Linked DNA regions of Homo sapiens. The protein of the gene in region 2 interacts with the protein of the main gene of each other region in a biochemical or structural test. Each region holds a gene or a part of one and is shown on either strand. Other genes may lie near its edges.

Region 1 (7,500 bases), on a different chromosome or scaffold from region 2:
ACATTTAGCTCATACTATGTGCCCAGCCACTATTCATTTAATACTAGGTACTATTATTATCACCACTTTACAAATGAAGAGTCCAAGACACAAAAAGTTAAATAACTTGTCCCAGGTCACAAAGCTCATAAGCAGCCAAGCAAGGTTTCAAATCCAGGAAAAATGGGTCCAGAGTTCATGCCCTTAACAAATACTCCAAAGTGATCTCTCTTCTTTCATCCTCTATCAAATCATAAAGTCCTTTAAGTTCCAAAGGGCAGGGACTCTGTTATGTTCACAGCAACATTCCCACAATCCAGTACATAACAGGTGCTCAAAAAAAACCCTTGTTTGTTGAATGAATGAAAGGACCCTTGAAATTACTCCTCCCATTTCCACTGCCACCACTCAAGGCCAGTCTTTCAGGTAAAGACTAGCCAATCAGGTAAATGGATATAAACTTCTCTGCCAGATTTTCCATAACCCAGTCCCATCCAGCCTATCAAAATTTTCTTTCTACTGCTTCTTAATTAGAATCATAAAATCTTAAAACCAGAAAGTATCTTAGAGATCATCCAGTCCAACCTCCTCACTTTACAGATAAAGAAACCCAAAGATGGTGACTAAAATCACCCAGGCAGGTGGAGCCAGAACCAGAACTTGACTCTTCCAATTTTTGCTCTATGATCTTTTTCTTCCAACTCATAATGATGCTTCATTCCTGACAGCTGTCTCCTCACTAGCCCATCAACAAATTATATCTATTCCCATGTTCCCGTTCAAGTTGTTTCTTCTACCCAAATTGTTCTCCCTCTCCATAGATCCAAATCCTCAAAATGTCTTCCTATTCCATTCTTCATGACTTCCTCTTTCTTGGAAAATCTTACATACCGAATAAGATAGTAAAGCAAGAGGATCACCATTGCCTACTAGGCCAAGTTTAATGCATAGTAACACTTCCCACAAAGTGAAGCTTACTTGGATGATTTCTTCCCTGTAAACTACTAATCCATTCTTCCATCCTGTGTTTTAGGAAGTGATTTTAATAAAGATTAGCTCATATATCACCTTCATAAAGTGTTCATATACCCGAAAGAGACACTCAAGCACATCTTCAATAGGAGACATGTGGCCAGGCGCAGTGCCTCACGCCTGTAATCCCAGCACTTTGGGAGGCTGTGGCGGGTGGATCATGAGGTCAGGCGTTCGAGACCAGCCTGGCCAACATAGAGAAACCCCACCCTACTAAAAACACAAAAAATTAGCCGGGTGTGGTGGCGGGCGCCTGTAATCCCAGCTACTCCGAGGCTGAGGCAGGAGAATCGCTTGAACCTGGGAGGCAGAGGTTGCAGTGAGCCAAGATCACGCCACTGCACTCCAGCCTGGGCGACAGAATGAGACTCCGTCTCCAAAAAAAAAAAAAAAAAAAAAAGAGTTTGGGCCAGGAACGGTGGTGGCTCACACCCGTAATCCCAGCACTTTGAGAGGCCAAGGCAGGCAGATTACCTGATGTCAGGAGTATATGACAAAATCCCACCACCACCAAAAATACAAAAATTAGCCGGGCGTGGTGGTGCACACCTGCAGTTCCAGCTACTCGGGAGGCTGAGGCAGGAGAATCACTTGAACCCGGGAGGCAGAGATTGCAGTGAGCCGACATCCCGCCATTGCACTCCATCATGGGGACCAAAGCGAGACTCTGTCTCAAAAAAAACAAAAACAAAAACAAAACAAAAAAACAAGACAAAAAAAGTTTGGAGACAACTATTCTAAAAATACATTGACAATGAGATCAAAATAATAGGTTTCAGACTACAGGGAGCATACATACATGTATGTATGTATATGGGCACACGCACACACTACAAAGGAAAACTTGTTCATATCCTGACTGACGTCCTAACCATGCCCACCAACCTCTAGCCCTTGCCAGCAATCTCAGAATTGTGTGTCCTACTCTGAAGCATAGTACAGAGGCTTTGGCAAAGCCTTTCATTTCTAGTAAAAACGAAATACAAAACAAAATAAACCACAAAAGCATGTCAAAAGTGATAAGATGATGCTAACTTCATCTTCCCTACAGAAAAGCATTTGACACTGTCCACAGTTCACTATCCTGACACTGCTCATCACCTAACGTAAACACATACCTTGTACTCCACAATCTCCTGAAATTCAGTTCCCATTTCCCAATCCCTTAGGATACAACCCATTTCCCCTTCACTAACGACGGGTTTATGCTCCCACCTCTGGGACTGAGCTAATACTGCCCTTCATCCTTCCCTCTCCTGAAGCTGCCATTCACTTTCTTTCTGCAGCCGCATAGTCCCGTCCCAGAGTAGAGGACAGACCATCCAGGGTCCCCAAACCCACTTCTCTTTCCTTCTCCGCCCCCGGGATCTGCCAGCCAGGCTAGAGACGCGAGGGGGGAGGGGTGTGACTCGCCTCCCAGGACTGGACCAGATGGCAGCGGATTCCGCCCCCACTCTCAGGCACCTTCCACCCTCCGACCCCTCGGGCAGCCCGTCCGCCACCCACCCCGCCCCGACCCCACCCCCGGCCTCCCCCACGCTCTCATGCCGGCTCCCAGACACACTCACCATGCTGGGTGAAGATATTGAAGCCGGTCTCTGTGGTGCGCCCCGCCGGGTCCCGCCTGCGGCCGGAGGGCCTGGCTGCACTGCTGCCCCGGATCCCGCGGGGCTGAGGCTGCTGGAGCCCCGGAGCTTCCCCGACGCGGCCCACCTGCTGCCCCATCCCTGCTCTCGCGTACTCCCGCGCCCCCGCCGACCCCTGGTCACATTCCTCCTCGGCTCCGGCCTCGGGCTCCTGGCGCTGCTCCGGTCTCTCCCTCCCAGCCCAGGCCCTGGCCCTGAGTGGCTGGGCCACCGGCGGCTCCGCACCCGGCCTCCTCACGGCAGCCGCCGCGCTGCCTCCAGGCGACTCACAGATTCTGCTTTTCCCTCCTCCTGTCGCGGCTCCGCGCCCCCAACGCCGCCGCCGCCGCCGCCGCCACCGCCGCCGCCATCTTTAAACCACCGAGCGCTGGGAAAGCGTGGGACAGAGCGTCTCCCGCCCCCCGCCCCCCGCCCCCCGCCCGCCAGTCACCTCCGCCGCGGGGAAGGAGGGCTTCCCGGCTGCCGCCCCGCCCTGCCGCGCCGCGCCCCCCGTCCCCGCCCCCGCCTCCTCGCAGGGTGGGTCCCCCAGTGCCCACCTCATTTGCCGGCCACCGCTGCTTGAGGTCTTTCGTCCTCCGCGTCCTGTCGCCGCACCTCGGCGTCCCCCCCCTCAATCCGCCTCAGCCGACCCCCTCCCGCGTTCGGCTCCACACGCTACCGCCTTTGGGGTTGGTCGGTCTCCGGCCTTCCCCATCCCACCTCCACCTGTCAAATGAGTGAGTCGAGGGCTCAGTGCCACCGCGTGCGCAGCTCAGGTGCAGGCACAGGTGGGGCAGAAAAGCACAAGGCATTTATTTGGTCCTTGCCATCCAGTTAAGGAGCTCTAAAATACCCAGGGGGATCTCTTTTAAACACCCTTGTCAGCAGCAGGCCTCCAGTAAAAATTAAAATGGTATAAAATTTACAAGAAGAGAGTAAAATGCTACCTTATTTGATTTTAATTTTTGGAGATTATTTCATGATGTTAAATCGCACTGGCCTGGATTGTGTGCCTTCTATAGTCTCATTGGGGACGCAATTGTAGCCCCATTCCTCATATTATATTACCATGAATTCCTCTTGAACTCCTTTACCATCTCACCATATGTGAGTTTCTGTTTCCTTACAATGCCTGACAGTAAAGTTAATCTTCCCACTGGCATCCTTTATACACTGTGCACGTGGTCAGGTCTTCTTTTGATGACAAAGGAGAAAAAATATATATCTTTGACCCTGTTTCTGAGTCAGAACTTACTCATTTTAGCTTATGCAGTCTAAAGAGAGTGAATGAGGCAGAAAAGAAGCGTTTTATACATACACATATACTATATACAATTGACTCGCCATCCCCCTCTCCCACTGTGTTTACTTGCATCTTAATTCAATTTTTTTTAATTCTCAAATCTTGATCATTCTCCTGTTATTCTTTTGGCTTCCCAATTTGCTTTATAAAAAGTATCAGTTAATGGAGGTACTACACTGAAATTTTGCTTAAATTAGACAGGACGGGAGCCACTGCAAAGAAGGAACAAAACAACCACTGGAAATGTAGGGTTGGGAGAAGAGGTGGATGAAGCTCTCCTTTGCATATCTTTCCTGAACCAGGTTGACCTTAGATGAACCATCCACTGACGTAGATATTGCCTGTTGTAAAAGCACTATGAAATTATTCCATTGCCATCTAGGGTGTAGCCAGAAATAACTGAAATTAACTCCAAAATGGGAACGGAAACACTATGTGTAAACACTGGATAAAATATGAACTTTCCATTTGGATTAAAGTTTCCCTGTGTTTAAAATACCTGTCTTTTCTTCTAATTCCCAGTGTTTGCAACTACTGAAAAAAATTCATTCGAAAGGGATAAAGATGTCACAGAGCCGGAATTTGGTTTACTGTTTGATTTTTATTATGGGAGAAAATTTTAATTTGGGGATAATGGTTTGGTTTCTCTGCTAATTCATGCATACTATATAAAGATAGATGAATATATGGGTTGAACATCTCAAATCTGAAAATCCAAAATGCTGCAAAATTCGAAATTTTTTGAGCACCAATATGATGCCAGAGGTGGAACATTTCACGTAAGTACTTAACATAAACTTTGTTTCATGCACAAAATTTTTAAAATATTGTATTAAATTGCATTCAAGCTATGTGTATAAAGGTGTATATGAAACATAAATGAATTTTGTGTTTAGACTTGGGTCGCATGCCCAAGATATCTCATTATGTGTGTGTAAATATTCCCAAATCTGAAACACTTGTGGTCCGAACATTTCTGATAAGGGCTGCTCAGCCTGCAGTAGAGTGCAGTGGCTAAGGGCAGGGGCTCTGAAGCCAGACTGCTTGGGTTCATAACTTGGCCCTGATACTTATGGACTATTTGATCTGGGCAAAGTACATAACCTTTTTGTGTCTCAGTACATTATCTGTAAACTGATGATGATAACAAATAGTATCTACCTTATAGGAATATTGTGAAAATTAAATTAGTCAATATATATGTATAGTACTTAAAACAGTATTTGGCATATAACTGGTGTCATATATGCATATACTATTAATACAAAAAACATAATGGTTTTAGGTTTTACAAGCCTAACTTTTTCAAATTTTATATATATATATATATATAAATTTGAGCAATGGCCAGAGGCCAGCATAAAAGATCAGACACATCACCAACAGCAGTAAGGCGTGCTGAAGACACAGATACTCTTCATCCTCATCATCCTTATCACAGGAGCAACACCACTCTCTCCAGAAGGAAGGAGCTTGTGAGTAATGCCTCACCAATCCCTGACTTCACCAGTCTGCATTTCTAGGCTATTGCCATACTTTTTACAGTTTTACAGTATCTCTCATATCTACCTCTTCCCTTCATCTATATAAACAGCGTTATGTAAGACACAGTGTTAGCTTAGGCATCTCTGCGCTGGTTTCTCCCGCTACTAGCCCTTTCTTCCTAGAGATTCCTCACCTTTAGCACCAAGCAACTCACTCAAAGAAACTGCTTCTCTCATTGCTTTGACCACACTCTCCCTCTCATTCATTACGTACAAAGTCTTAAGTCTAAAATTTTCACCTAATGGGCCGGGCACAGTGGCTCATGTTTGTAATCCCAGCACTTTGGGAGGCCAAGGTGGGCGGATCACTTGAGGTCAGGAGTTTAAGACCAGTCAGGCCAATATGGTGAAACCCCGTCTCTACTAAAAATGCAAAAACTAGCCAATCGTGGGGGCGCGTGCCTGTAATCCCAGCTACTGGGGAACCTGAGGCAGGCGAATTGCTTGAGCCCAGGAGGCGGAAGTTGCAGTGACAGGAGATTGCGCCACTGCACCCCAGCCTAGGTGACAGAGGGAGTCTCTGTCTCAAAAATAAATAAATAAATAAATAAATAAACAAAATAAACGTTTCACCTAGTGTTTCGAAGTTATTTTCCAGGATAACTGGATTATAATTGCCTAATGTTCTTCCATCTCCTGTTCCTCCAACCTCCACCTTTCCTATGGCAGGCATACATACTTTATCCAATTAGCCTATTTCTGAGATGTATCCCTTTTAGCTATGAGTTTTGCAATAATTATATTCTCCCTAATATAAGTCTCGAGTGACTCCCTTACAGGATTCTACTGTCCTCTTCAGTATTCTATTCAGATCCTGCCTCCTTGATAAGAGAACCTCAGACTTATTAATACAGACCTAACAGTTTCCTCGGACTCTATTCAGTACAGGCCTTAACCACAACTGGTAATAATTCTTTCGTTATAAAATTCGCTTACCTTCCTCTACATCCCTCAAATATGGTTTTTTGTTTTTTGTTTTTTGTTTTTGATATGGAGTCTCGCTCTGTCCCCCAGGCTGGAGTGCAGTGGCGCGATCTCGGCTCACTGCAAGCTCCGCCTCCCGGGTTCACACCATTCTCCTGCCTCAGCCTCCCGAGTAGCTGGGACTACAGGCGACCACCACTACACCCGGCTAATTTTTTGTTTTTTAGAAGAGATGGGATTTCACCGTGTTAGCCAGGATAGTCTCGATCTCCTGACCTTGTGATCCATCTGCCTTGGCCTCCCAAAGTGCTGGGATTACAGGCGTGAGCCACCGCACCCGGCTGTTTTGTTTTGACACATGACTCAAGTGTCATAGAGTTGGAAAGAAACTTAGAGGTCATGTAGGCTAATCTGGAATCCTCTCTGCAGTAATTCCAGTGAGGGTATCCATTTCTTTCAAAAGGTTCTAATTATTAAAACATACTTCCTGGGCCAGGCGCAGTGGCTCACGCCTGTAATCCCAGCACTTTGGGAGGCCAAAGTGGGCGGATCACAAGGTCAGGAGATCGAGACCATCCTGGCTAACATGGTGAAACCCCATCTCTACCAAAAATACAAAAAATTAGCCGGGCGTGGTGGCAGGCGCCTGTAATCCCAGCTACTCAGGAGGCTGATTCAGGAGAATGGCATGAACCCAGGAGGCGGAGCTTACAGTGAGCTGAGATCACACCATTGCACTCCAGCCTGGGTGACAGAGCCAGACTCAGTCTCAAAAAAAAAGTTCTTCCTAAAGATAAACTGAAAAATGTTCCCCTGAAACTTCCACCTGTTTCACCCCAGTTCTAATTCTACCATGTAGCTACACAGAACAAATATAATCTTTATTCTACATGAAATCTTTCACATATTTGAAAGCTATCATGTTTCCCCAAATCTTTTATTTTCTTGCATATATGCATGTTTATATAGTTATGTTTATCTATCTATATTTATCTACGTGGGCTGAAAATGTTTATGTAGATAAATTGAGAGAAAAAAATTTTGTTGTAATTTTACGTATAGCATTTTCCTTTTTCTTTTCTTTCTTTTTTTT
Region 2 (7,338 bases):
TTTTATGACAATATTTATTCAGAATGGCATCCATTCTGAATAAAAGTGGGACTTTCTGGTACAGAAGCAGGGCTCAGTCATTCTTGACAGTTTCTAGCTCCTCACCTCCTCCCAGTTGCCCAGGGTGGTCCACCCAGATCTCTGCTTTATACACCTGCCAGCTGGTGACCAGCTCCCTATGGGACACCTGGATACAACCTACTGGACTCAGCCCCTGGCCCCCACACCCCTCACGGACTGTGCAGACGTGCCACAGTGACCACCACCCAGTCACAGCAAGATGCCATGAAGCTGATGCCTGCCGGCTCGAAATCACACCCCACAGGAAATGCACTTGAGTAACAACACCCTGGACCTGAATACAGATTTGGTGCACAGGCCGCTGGCTCGCTCCCCACCATCTGGCTGGGCCTGCCTGTTCCCCGTGGCTCCCCCTCCCCACTGGCCTGTGAGGAACGCTGCCTCCTCGCTCCCGCCCGGTTGAGTCACACACCTGCTCTGCAGTTTCATGTGTTCTGCTGTGCTGCCTCCTCCAGCTCTCACCTGACCCTTGCACCCAAACCTCACTCTCCTGGTCAGGACTCTCCCAGAGAGACCATCATGATAGGAATGAACTGATCACTGCTCAGACAAAAGCCACAGGCTGCCTGCCAAAGCCTAGAAGCAAGCTGCTGGTGAGAGGAATGCCAGCACAGCTGGATACACAGGCCTGAGGCCATCAGCCAGGGTCAGGAGGCATCCCACGAGAGCACACACTGTAACCCCATGCCCACCGCCCCCAGAGCCCCATCAGGGAAGGGCCAAAGTTTACAGCCACTCTCCAGGAGAGACCTCAAGACGAATTAGAGGAAAACTATGACAATGATTTTGTTTAATGATAATTTTCCTTTTTCCTAGCACTCTGGAAAGCTGCCAGTTTCTTTACAAGTTAACCATCAATCTGATGCAGGGCAGGTGAGCCCCAAAATTGGGGCTTAACCCTGGAGGGTTCATGGCTTCACCCAGGAAGGCATTCAAGGGTGAGCCAGTGGTGTTAGCCAGGCAAGTTTGTTAAAGCAGCAGAATCCTACCCAGCAACCTCTGAGGAACCGGCATGTGGCCTGGGGGACAGCCCCACTCCATAAGCTGCCCGATGTTCTGTATCTGTCCACGATGGTGATGAGACCCTAGGAGAGTTGCAAGTCTGAACACAGGGAAATCTTTAGAAATCCCCACGATCCATAAGATTGAAAACAATCCTCCTCTCTGAGAACTTCATCTATTTCTGGGATAAACCAAATCTGTGTTTAGTCACACGTGACTCCAACTGAGTAACTTTCAAGTCATTTCCCTAAGGCAGAAAAAATTCTCCATTATGCCAGCAAAGTGGCAAGGAAGAGCCAAGAATGCTTGATCCCATCCCCACCACAGGGAACCCTGCACGGCAGGAGGAGAAAGGACATCTAAGCTGGAGACTGGTAAGGTTTCAGCCACCCATGGCTAGGAAAGCATACACTGCCTCTGAGGGGGCGTGGGCAGCTGCAACACGGGAGTCACGTGGGAGGGGTTTGCGGGACTCCAGGCATCACCTCTTCACACCGGAGGCAACACCGATGGAGTCGTGAGAACATAGTCCAGGTGTGTCCAGAATTGGTGGGTTCTTGATCTCACTGACTTTAAGAATGAAGCACTAGGTCCTCACAGTTGACTGTTACAGTTCTTAAAATTGTTATGTCTGCAGTTTGTTCCTTCTGATGTTTGGACGTGTTTGGAGTTTGTTCCTTCTGGCAGACTCACGGTCTTGCTGGCTTCAGGAGTGGAGCTGCAGACCTTCACAAGGAGTGTTACAGCTCTTAAGGCAGTGTGTCTGGAGCTGTTCATTCCTCCCGGTGGGTTTGTGGCTTTGCTGGCCTCAGAAGTGAAGCTACACACCTTCCCAGTGAGTGTTACAGCTCATAAAAAGTGTGGACCCAAAGAGTGAAAGAGCAAAGCCCCAAACATGTGGCAGAACACCAACACGTTCCCACTGCCTGCTCGGGCGGCCTGCTTTTATTCCCTTATCTGGCCCCACCCATATCCTGCTGATTGGTCCATTTTACAGAGGGCTGGTCTGTTTTACAGAAAGCTGATTGGTCCGTCTTGACAGGGCGCTGATTGGTGTGTTTACAATCCCTGAGCTAGACACAGAAGTTCTCCAAGTCCCCACAGAGCACTGATTGGTGCATTTACAAACCTTGAGCTAGATACAGGGTGCTGATTGGTGTCTTTACAAACCTTGAGCTAGACACAGAGTGCTGATTGGTGTATTTACAGTCCCTTAGCTAGACATAAAGGTTCTCCAAGTCCCCACCAGATTAGCTAGATACAGAGTGCTGATTGGTACATTTACAAACCTTGAGCTAAACACAGAGTGCTGACTGGTGCGTCCACAATCCCACAGCTAGACATAAAGGTTCTCCAAATCCCCACCAGATTAGCTGGATACAGAGTGCCCATGGGTGCATCTACAAACCTTGAGCTAGACACAGGGTACCGATTGGTGAGTTTACAAACCTTGAGCTAAACACAGTGCTGATTGGTGTATTTACAATCCCTTAGCTTGACATAAAGGTTCTCCAAGTCGCCGCTAGACTCAGGAGCCCAGCTGGCTTCACCTAGTGGATCCCACACCGGGGCTGCAGGTGGAGCTGCCCGCCAGTCCCGCGCCGTGCGCCCGCACTCCTCAGCCCTTGGGCGGTCGATGGGACCGGGTGCCGCGGAGCAGGGGGCCGCGCAAGAGCCCACGGCAGGGGGGAGACTCAGGCATGGCGGGCTGCAGGTCCTGAGCCCTGCCTCGCGGGGAGGCAGCTGAGGCCCGGTGAGAATTCGAGCGCAGCGCCGGCGGGCCGGCACTGGTGGGGGACCCGGCGCATCCTCCGCAGCTGCTGGCCCGGGTGCTAAGCTCCTCACTGCCTGGGGCCGGTGGCTCCGATTGCGGGGCCCGCCGAGCCCACGCCCACCCGGAACTCACGCTGACCCGCAAGCGCCACGTGCAGCCCGGGTTCCCGCCCGCACCTCTCCCTCCACACCTCCCTGCAAGCTGAGGGAGCCGGCTCCGGCCGCGGCCAGCCCAGAGAGGGGCTCCCACAGTGCAGCGGCGGGCTGAAGGGCCCCTCGAGCGCGGCCAGAGTGGGCGCCGAGAGCGAGCGAGGGCTGCCAGCACGCTGTCATCTCTCACAGGGCGAAGCCCACGCCACAGGACGGGTCGGTTCTGTACCCGCCGGGGCAGGGGAGAGCCGCCTCTGGTGAGCAGAACCCCGGAGAAGGGACGACGCGGGTGCACCTCGCGGCATGGGGACACCAAGTCAGACGAACCCGCTGTGCAAGAACATTTTCCACACAGCGGCGCATACCCCCGCCCGGGGGCGCTCGGCAGCCGCACGCGGCCCTCAGAGCGCAGCCCCCACACGCCTTTACTTCTGGAAGGCGGAGACCGCCACAGTGAGGAGCTAAGCCAGCTGAGGCAACACAGAAAAACCCCCGTTCCTACCCAAAACCAAAAAGCGGGGCGCGGAGGCGCGCGCCTGCGGTCCCAGCTACCGGGGAGGCCGAGAAGGGAGGATCGCCTGAGCCCGGGAGGCGCAAGCTACAGTGAGCCGAGACTGCCACTGCACTCAGTCTGGGTGACAGAGCGAGACCCTGTCTCTAAAGGGGAAAAAAGAGCTAGGAAGAAGCGGGCTGCCTCTTAACTTCGGAGAAGTAAATGAGGAACTATAACCAGTGTCTACCGTTTAGGAACCAAACAAAAGCTGACAGGAATCCCGCCACCGACCCAGCCGCCCCAGACTTTGCCCTGGCCTATCCCGCGCCGCTCCTCAAACTAGACCCGCCCCGACGTCGCCCTGGCCTATCCCACGCCGATCCTCAAACGAGGCCCGCCCCCGATGCACAAGCTCCGCCCTCGTTGCACCGTCCTGACCCTCGGCCTCGCCCCCGCCCCCTGGCTCTTCCCGCGCAGCCGAATGCCGCGACCTGGCTCCCACCCTTCGTCGCTTCGCGCCGCATAGGAACCCCGCCCCTAGTCTCTCCTCCCGCCTATCCTGAGCGGCGCGCGCACAAATCTCTCCCACGGACCCGCCCACCCTGATCCTCAACCTGGCCCCTGGCCTTTCCCGCGGCGTCGAGTCCAGTACACCGACGCACGAGTCCCACCCCCGATCTCTCCCTCGGCCTATCCCGCGCCGCTCCGCGCAGGAGTCCCGCCTCCCACTTCGCCCGCAGCCTATGACGCGCCGCGTCGCTCCCTCTCCTCAAACCCGCTCTCGCCCGCGGATGGGCGCGCAGCTGTGACGTCACGGCGTCGTTGGTAAGGGGCTGGCGGCCGGGGAGCTGCGTAGCTCCCGGCCCCGCGGCCATGCCCAAGCGGAGCTGCCCCTTCGCGGACGTGGCCCCGCTACAGCTCAAGGTCCGCGTGAGCCAGAGGGAGTTGAGCCGCGGCGTGTGCGCCGAGCGCTACTCGCAGGAGGTCTTCGGTGAGTGTCGGGCGGGCTGCCGAGGGTCCGCTGCGTCGGGGCCTGGAACGGGCCGGGCCTCAGCGTCCCCTCTGAGGCCTGAGCGGGGGGCTGGAGGGCCCTGCTTTCTGGCCCCGCGTTCCCGGAAGCTGGGAGGCCGCGGGGACACAAGCTGGCCACGCCCAGGGCTGGGGTCAGTGAGGGGGATGTGAGGACCCCAGCGTTCGCCCACCCTGTCCAACAGCCTGAAAGAAAAGGGTCCCTGCCCCTAGCCCCCGCGCCCTCTTCCACGATCCCGGTTAGTCGCCGCCCTGCAGTGAGCGGCACCCGCCTGGTGCTTTCTCAGGACTGTCCCGTGCAGGATGTCCTGGGAGAGGTTGGGGAGCGGGGCGTCCTGCATGGAGTCAACCCGAAGAGTGCCCCTCCTGTCCCAAGAGGTATTCATGGAGCGCGCGGCCCTGCCAGGCACGGCGGCTTTCTCGGGAGACCAAAGGCAGGCAAGACAGATGTGCCCCGTCTCCCGGGAGCTCCCCAGCCTAGTTGGGGAGACCAGCAGGAGGAGTCGCCACAGGTGGTCGGGGCAGGCACAGGTTTGTGCAGGCGCACCTGCAGGGATGGCACGGAAGGCTTCTTGGAAGAACAGTCTGAGCGGAATCCTGTGGGGGCGAGTAGGAGTTAGCCAGGCAGAGGAAGGGAAGGAAGAGGGCGAGGCAGAAGCCAGGCAGCAGGAGAGCGAAATAGGACTCCGTGTGGCTGCAGTGTCCAGTTCTGGGTGGGATGTGAGGGCAGTGAGCTCCCAGGCCTTCTCTGGCTTTCTCCTGTGGATTTCAGGCGTGTTGATCTTATTGATCATCACTCTGACTGGGGTGATTAATACCCTGGGGCAGGTAAAAAGTGGAGCTTACCTTGCCTAGTGATTGGGACACAAAGTCTGCACCTGTAGAGCAGTTAGAGGATGACCCGGGGTGTGTGATTTACCTGGTGCCGCTTGTGCCTTGGGAATGAGGGAAAGACTCTGCCTCCCGAGGTTCCTCTGTGCGGTGTCTCCAGTGTGCTAGGGCTGTGAAAGCGAGTGCTATTCTGGGCCATGGGGAGGTAAGGGGAATGATGCCGTGGGAACTGTGGCAGGACCGCAATCGTGTGCCCTCTCAGGACAGTTGAAAAATTCAAACACTGTGCAGGCAAGAAGAGGAAGATGGAAATGGGGCCTGGCTCAGTATGGCCCTTTATTCTTCCCGAGTGTCCTGACCTGGGCGTTGGCAGGTGTGTGCCACTCACCGGGTCAGGTCAGGGAGGTCTGCTGGGTGCAGTGGGCCTTCCATGGTAAATGCAGGACACCTACTTTGAACTGTGTGACAGTTTCCAAATTCCAGGCCACAGCTGTTACCCTGATCTCTTAACCTCGAATTGTCCACAAGGCCTTGAGGACAAGGATTAGCCTCACCACGTGTCTGTCCCATTCCTTTCCCCTTATAGATGGGGGAAGGTGTGGGGGGCCAGGAGGAAGGTGCAGGGTGTTGTGGGCTGGCATCAGCTACTCCATGTGAGTTACCCTGTCACTATTATTGCTGCCCACTTCATGTAGAGCCACATAGAGTTTCTGGGATCTCTGCCTTTACTGTGTTATGGTGAGGTGCAAAACAAAAAACAAAGCATTTCTGGGTCTGGCCCTGGGCATCTGATTTTTCAAAGCTCCCCAGGTGACTGAACTGTGGCCTGATGGAAAACCACTGCTCCCAGGGATGGGTGGGTGTTCTAGAACAAGAGGTCTGGAAGGTTCTGGGATGCTTGTCTTGCCAGCAACTCTGTAGCAGGTGAAGGGGGTGTGCTCTGGCCAGAGGCTGTAGGCCCAGCTCCAAGCCTCTGGCTGCTTCCTTGGCAGGGGACGAGTTTTGTGAATTAGTGCTCCACAGTGCAGAGCTCCCTCTGTGCATTCCACAGAGCCTGGTTTCCAGGTGGGGAGTGCTGGGGAAGCAGAAAAGGGAGAAAGGGGACAAGCTTAGTGAGGCGAGGCCAGCCGTGAATTGCAGAAAATGAGCCGAGTGATAGGAGAGGGAACCCTTGCATCAGACACAGGTGGGGCTGCAGGGCCAGAGCCTTCCTGGAGGAGATGACAGCTAAGCCAGGTAAGGAAAGGACGCACAAGCATTCTCAGCATAGAGGCAGAGCAGGACCCAGCTCGCCAGGGCACAACACAGGCTGGGGTTACTGGGAGACAGAGGGCACACAGGAGGACGATGGGGTTCATGTGAGGCTAGAAAGACTCAATGGCCATGCAGGGGCTTCGTTGGTACACAGTGAAGGACGTGAGAATGATTTATCTTCCCCCAGAGAAGACCAAGCGACTCCTGTTCCTCGGGGCCCAGGCCTACCTGGACCACGTGTGGGATGAAGGCTGTGCCGTCGTTCACCTGCCAGAGTCCCCAAAGCCTGGCCCTACAGGGGCCCCGAGGGCTGCACGTGGGCAGATGCTGATTGGACCAGACGGCCGCCTGATCAGGAGCCTTGGGCAGGCCTCCGAAGCTGGTGAGTGGCACCAGCAGCCCTTTGTGGCTGTGGCACTGAGGGCAGGTGGTGGCACGAGCATTTTTCTTGATTTGCAAGGTCAGGCTTTTCCTCCCTGGGTAAGCAGGACTCTGACCCAGAGCTTGGCCTTCTGGCTCAGAAGGCTCCTGTTATCAGGAGGTCTCACATTCAAGACTGGAAGTTGTTAAACAGCTTCTAAGTACTGGGCCAAAAAAGCAGCAGAGACTCCCCGGGTATCCCGTCTGCTTTCCGCCTGCAGCCCCCTCAGATAGTCCCACAAGGCTGGAAACATGCCAGTCCCATCCCTATGCAGTGTGGGGTCTCAGAGCATCACCTGTGTTGC

The links.
Region 1: the proteins of SIVA1 (region 2) and ABL2 form a complex in vitro, tested with the Homo sapiens proteins (one study listed by BioGRID).

The regions. Positions count from the first base shown.
Region 1 is NC_000001.11:179,226,662-179,234,161, forward strand, and holds the start of ABL2 (tyrosine-protein kinase ABL2), read right to left. Parts: upstream 3,017-7,500; 5' UTR 2,737-3,016; coding exon 2,580-2,736; intron 1-2,579. UniProt on the Homo sapiens protein: Non-receptor tyrosine-protein kinase that plays an ABL1-overlapping role in key processes linked to cell growth and survival such as cytoskeleton remodeling in response to extracellular stimuli, cell motility and adhesion and receptor endocytosis.
Region 2 is NC_000014.9:104,748,830-104,756,167, forward strand, and holds the start of SIVA1 (apoptosis regulatory protein Siva), read left to right. Parts: upstream 1-4,317; 5' UTR 4,318-4,372; coding exon 4,373-4,490; exon of another isoform or gene 4,491-5,642; intron 5,643-6,800; coding exon 6,801-6,995; intron 6,996-7,338. UniProt on the Homo sapiens protein: Induces CD27-mediated apoptosis. Inhibits BCL2L1 isoform Bcl-x(L) anti-apoptotic activity. Inhibits activation of NF-kappa-B and promotes T-cell receptor-mediated apoptosis.